Linked DNA regions of Homo sapiens: region 1 is linked to region 2. The links come from fine-mapping of genetic effects on gene expression. A gene starts in region 2. The other region holds a variant in brackets. All regions are shown on one strand. Distances are from middle to middle. Region 1 overlaps PALLD (palladin, cytoskeletal associated protein). Region 2 holds the start of ANXA10 (annexin A10).

What was found.
Region 1: its variant is fine-mapped to the expression of ANXA10 in pancreatic islets (PISA, PIP 0.93).

Annotation. Positions count from the first base shown.
Region 1 is chr4:168,576,364-168,579,297 of GRCh38, forward strand. The region is part of intron 2 of PALLD (palladin, cytoskeletal associated protein); the gene reads left to right. The region is part of intron 1 of LOC124900807 (a long non-coding RNA gene); the gene reads right to left. Among named protein-coding and RNA genes, the nearest start is that of PALLD-AS1, 71 kb to the right of the region's middle. The variant G/A (reference allele first, on the strand shown) is at 1,510.
Region 2 is chr4:168,091,092-168,094,025 of GRCh38, forward strand. It overlaps ANXA10 (annexin A10), which reads left to right and starts at 1,446. Exons shown (of 12, transcript NM_007193.5): 1 at 1,446-1,627. The coding sequence starts at 1,610. LOC124900170 (a long non-coding RNA gene) reads left to right here and starts at 1,646. Exons shown (of 2, transcript XR_007058357.1): 1 at 1,646-2,934.

The sequences.
Region 1 (2,934 bases), 490 kb after region 2:
TCCAAATGCTATCCGTCCCCCCTCCCCCAACCCCACAACAGGCCCTGGTGTGTGATGTTCCCCTCCCTGTGTCCATGTGTTCTCATTGTTCAATTCCTACCTATGAGTGAGAACATGCGGTGTTGTGGTTTTTTGTCCTTGCGATAGTTTGCTGAGAATGATGGTTTCCAGCTTCATCCATGTCCCTACAAAGGACATGAACTCATCATTTTTATGGCTGCATAGTATTCCATGGTGTATATGTGCCACATTTTCTTAATCCAGTCTATCATTGTTGGACATTTGGGTTGGTTCCAAGTCTTTGCTATTGTGAATAGTGCCGCAATAAACATACGTGTGCATGTGTCTTTATAGAGCATGATTTATAATCCTTTGGGTATATACCCAGTAATGGGATTGCTGGGTCAAATGGTATTTCTAGTTCTAGATCCCTGAGGAATTGCCACACTGACTTCCACAATGGTTGAACTAGTTTACAGTCCTACCAACAGTGTAAAAGCAAAACCACAATGAGATACCATCTCACACCAGTTAGAATGGCGATCATTAAAAAGTCAGGAAAAAACAGGTGCTGGAGAGGATGTGGAGAAATTGGCAGCATTTTCTTTCTCTGTGATACATAAAATGATTAGTAGTGATAAATGAAAAACTTCAACCGAATTAAATTTAAAAGAGTTTAATTGAGCAATGAACAATTCATGAATCCGGCAGGCTCGAAGACTCCAGCACAGCCATAAGGTGGAAGAAGATTTATGAACAGAAAAAGGAAAATGATGTACAGAAAATGGAAGTGAGGTACAGAAACAGCTGAATTGGTAACACGTTGATGTTTGCCTTATTTGAACACAGTTTGAATGCTCAGCAGTGTATGAGTGGTTGAAGTATGACTACAGGAATTGGCCAAGACTCAGCTATTGTTATAGACACATACACCTAAGTTAGGCTTTTCAGTCTTTTCTACCGACTAAGTTAGGTTATGGTTTGCCCACAAGGACTCAAATATGGAAATATAGAGTCCTTCTCAGGCCATATTTAGTTTGCTTTAACAGTAGATAAACTATGAGTATTCTTATTTCTATTAAATACAGTATATCAATTTTTAAAGATCTGAAAAAAATGCATGACATTCACAGGATTGTAACATTTGTTAGCACCCATTTAATTCAGGTTTTTCTTACATAGGAAGGATTTAAAATATATCAAAAGTATTTGCAATTTTTATTCTCTAAGAGATTGTTTGTTATGCTGGGGCAGGAGTCAAGAGTAGAGAGGCAATTTGGAAACTGAAAGAAAGGCTAAATTGACCATTACTCAAAAGAGGCCACCAGTTCCAGGGACTCTTGGAGGACCCAAGAGTAGAGAGGCAATTTGGAAACTGAAAGAAAGGCTAAATTGACCATTACGCAAAAGAGGCCACCAGTTCCAGGGACTTTTGGAGGACCTTGGCCAAAGAAAGAAGAAGGGGAATGAAAGGACAAACCCAGCATGCAGCAATGGGCAGCAGAAGAG[G/A]AAAAGAAAACAGCTGAACAGCTGCCTGGAAAGTGGAACTTCGATAAGAGAGGACACATGAATGGGGGCGGGGCGGGGGGAACGTTGTGAATCTCTCATCACTTCCTGGAGAAAATGTTACAAAGACCCATACTACTTTTCAATGTTCTTTCAATTTAATGTGTGCTTCCTTTGGATGCAGGATATACTGAGGCAAAGTAGCCTAGAATATTCACAAACAACTTGTTAATTTGAAATCTGATAATAAATAACATTGGTTTGTTCTACATTATCTTCTAGGGTCAGCAATTTCCCTGGACATACACCTTCCATTAAGTTAGGATTTAAAAAACATCTAATTGTGAATCAAATAGCCCTTACAAAAGCATTTCCAAAATTTGTGTTTGATATGGTTCAGCTGGGTCCCCACCTAACGCTCATCTTGAATTGTAGTTTCCATAATCTTCACGTGTCATAGGAGGGACCCAGTGGGAGGTAATTTAATCATGGGGGTGGTTAACCTCATGCTGTCCTTGTGATAGTGAGTGAGTTCTTACAAGATCTGATGGTTTTATAAGGGGCTTTTCCCCCCTTTTGCGCGGTACTGCTCCTTGCTGCTGCCATGTGAAGAAGGACATGTTTGCTTCCCCTTCTGCCATAATTGTAAGTTTCCTGAGGCTTCCCCAGCTGTGCTGAATGTGAGTCAACTAAACCTCTTTCCTTTATAAATTACTCAGTCTTGGGTATGTCTTTATTAGCAGCATGAGAACAGACTGATACAGTGTTCTAAACAATAAGACTGTGGAAAATGTTTTACATGTGAAGAAAAAAACACAGAGGAGTTAGATAATAGATTGATAGAATAGACAGATGATAGATGATTGATAGATATCATAGGTAGATAAATATGTTGGTAGGTAATATGATAGATCAATGGATAGATAGATAGTCCCAGTGCTTAAAAAAAAACCTATAGTAAAGAAAGTTATTTGTGTTTTTAAACCTATTACTTCCCAAACTCATTTAAAAAGAGAACACTGTTTGAGGCTCACCCATTAACATTTGGTAAACACTATTCTGTAAAATTCCAGTTTGTGTGCTCTGTATGTGTCAATTTCTAGTTTTAACCAACTCCTAGTAGATTTCTATTTTCAAGTAGGGAAAGAGTTTTCACAGGAAAAGAAGAGCATTTGGAGATCAAAGAAAGGGATAAAGGAGACTATCTGAAAATAAGCTTCAGCTCTGTAATTTTGACTAAGGCAGTCCTTGCTTTCAATCCCTAGAAAGTCCTAGTAAATCTCCCACAGTGGGGAGGTCAAGGTAGTTCACCACAATGGCTAATAGTGCCATGTAAAGTGCAGCTATTTGAAAGTTGGTTAATCTCCCTAAACGTCATTTCGTACCTTCATGTAATTCGGGTAAGAATGATGTCTCCTCCAGAGGGAC
Region 2 (2,934 bases):
AATCATTGTAGTTGAAAACTCTTCTATTGTTTCTAATTAAAAAACAATTTTAGTTGAAAATTCTTCTTTTGTTTCTAATTCTGAATCCTATAGTTTTAATAAGTATATCTATTATTTTATAATTGCTATATGCTGTCTACATATAGCAATTATACAATATAAATTATACAATTATAGCAATTATACAATATAAATTATACAATTTTATAATTGCTATATGCTGTCTACATAGCAAAAACACAAGACCCTGATTCATACACAGACACATACACATACATAGTAGGACCTACTAGATTTTAATGTTTTTGAGCCAAGCAGCATGGTTCCATATATCTCTCATAGTACCAGGTATACTGGTAAGGTAATCAGATAATATTATAAATTGAATGCTGAAGAATATATATATATAGTTGCTCATTATATATATATATATTTGTGTTTGTGTGTGTGTGTGTGTGTGTATTACATAAATACATACTGCTTCATGGCTTTTACTCATATTTTAACATCAGAATTATTTTGGGTAGTTCTAGACCTATGGATGCTGATCAGTTGACACTTGTCTTGTTAGTATTTGGTTCTTTCAATAAAGGATTATTTGCTCCTAATTCTTATTCAAAGTATTTTAAAATTTTTATAAATGAACACTATATTGTTCAATAAATAGCAAGTAGCAGTAAAATAATATAATACAGATTCATTTTGTTATTTTTGGAATCATATATGAATGTATCTAGATAGTTTCCAACACTATATTGAACTTTACAGGTTTTTCTAAAATTTATTTCCTTAAAATGCAATAGTTAATATTAAAATTACATATATATAAATATAGGAAAATTAAGTGCAAAAATGATGGTGAATATATTTCTCCAAAGACTTTTATTGGTGGATAATGAATTCTTTTCTAAATATATTTAAAATAATTTTTTTTTAATTTGTGTATTTTTAGTAGAGACGGGGTTTCGCCATGTTGGGCAGCCTGGTCTCGAATTCCTGACCTCAAGTGATCTGCCTGCCTTAGCCTCCCAAAGTGCTGGGATTAGAGGCATGAGCCACCAGGCCCAGCCCCTAAATACATTATTTTTTAATATAAGAGCAGATAAACAGTAGTTGAAATATTCTTTTAAAATTGTATGGATACACATAGAACCTAGCAATTTAAGATAGGAAACTAGGGCTGGAGCACCTGAAAGAGTTTCCATGTTAACAACAATTAAGCAGAAAATAAATGATTAACTTTATGGGTAATCAACTTAGCTTTCCATAAGTCATCAGCTTTTTCAAAAGATTACATTTCTTTCATTAGTTGGCTACTTTATGTGTCTTAAATCAACATACAACTGGGGATTAGGTTAATGGTTCTACTTATTTTGTGCAATAATTCTGCCTACTCACCTATGACTGATAACTAAGTATAAATACAGTATCTCAAGTCATGCTGTATCCAGATTTGCTTTTACATTTTCTTGCCTGAGTCTGAGGTGAACAGTGAACATATTTACATTTGATTTAACAGTGAACCTTAATTCTTTCTGGCTTCACAGTGAAACAAGTTTATGCAATCGATCAAATATTTTCATCCCTGAGGTTAACAATTACCATCAAAATGTTTTGTGGAGACTATGTGAGTATAATGCTTATTTCTGTAAAGCTTTTCACTCTTTTGAAACTTGATTTATAAAATTTCATTTGTGTTTTTTGACGTTTTTAACAGAAAATGTTGTTCTAATTTGTTTTTATTCTTACTACTTTCTTACTATTTTATGCCCATTTTTTGAAAGAAACATTTATAGAATATTTAAATTTTATTTCTGGGATTATTAAACATTACTATGATAACAAGATTTTTTTAATGCAATTATTTGCTATGCTTCTGAAGCAAATAAAGAAAACTGAAGATTAAAGATTTGGATTTGAGCATACCTAAGAATCCATTTAATTAGTGGGTCTTCAATATAACTATTAAACAGAGTTAATATTATGAAATCTTAAATCCATGCTAATTTTGAAACAACGTATTATCCCACAGAGGCAAGTTACTTTCATATGTAATTTGATTCAGAATTCTAACTGAAGTTATCATAAGATTTTTTATCTCGATATTTACTTCTATCTATAAAAAATTAAAATAATTTTGACTATTAATTTTATTTTAAATCCATGCTTTCTGTAAAAGATAGCTTATTTTTGAATAATTTTCTGTTGAATAGAAGCAATGTATAACAAGATTTAGTCTTTTTTTTGGCCTTGTCTGAATCATTTTAGTCCAACTGCTCTAATAGTCATTCACTTTTTAAAAAGCCAACATGAACATTAAGTTGTCTGAATATGCTTTATATGAAAAGGTCTCCATTTCACATGGTCTTGAAAATTATATACAAATGTGAATTTATGCCTTGTGGTCTTAGAAATTATATACAAGTATATGTGTGTTAATGATGATTCTTTACAAATCTATACTATAAAAAAACTTTCAGGAGACTGAGGCAAGAGAATGGCGTGAACCCGGGAGGCGGAGCTTGCAGTGAGCCGAGATCGCGCCACTGCACTCCAGCCTGGGCGACAGAGCGAGACTCCATCTCAAAAAACAAAAAACAACTTTCTGGGAACTTTTATGCAAAAAAATTATAACATAATTATTTTGTTAAACTTTGGCACACAAAACATTGTTTACTCATACAAAGTAATCAATGCAGGAAAATTTTACTTATATATTGTGTTTCTTAAGATAAATACTGAATTAGGACTTAAAAGGCAGCTATTTTCCATCACTGTTAGTTTAACAATCTTAATTTCATCTTAAGATTTCAAGATCTCATTTTGCAGTTGAAAGTTACCATTATTGTTTTATTAATTGTAAGGTGGTTATATTTCACTACAGAGAAAAAAAGGTATCAAGTAATTAGGCCAGCATGGTAAATGATTAAATTT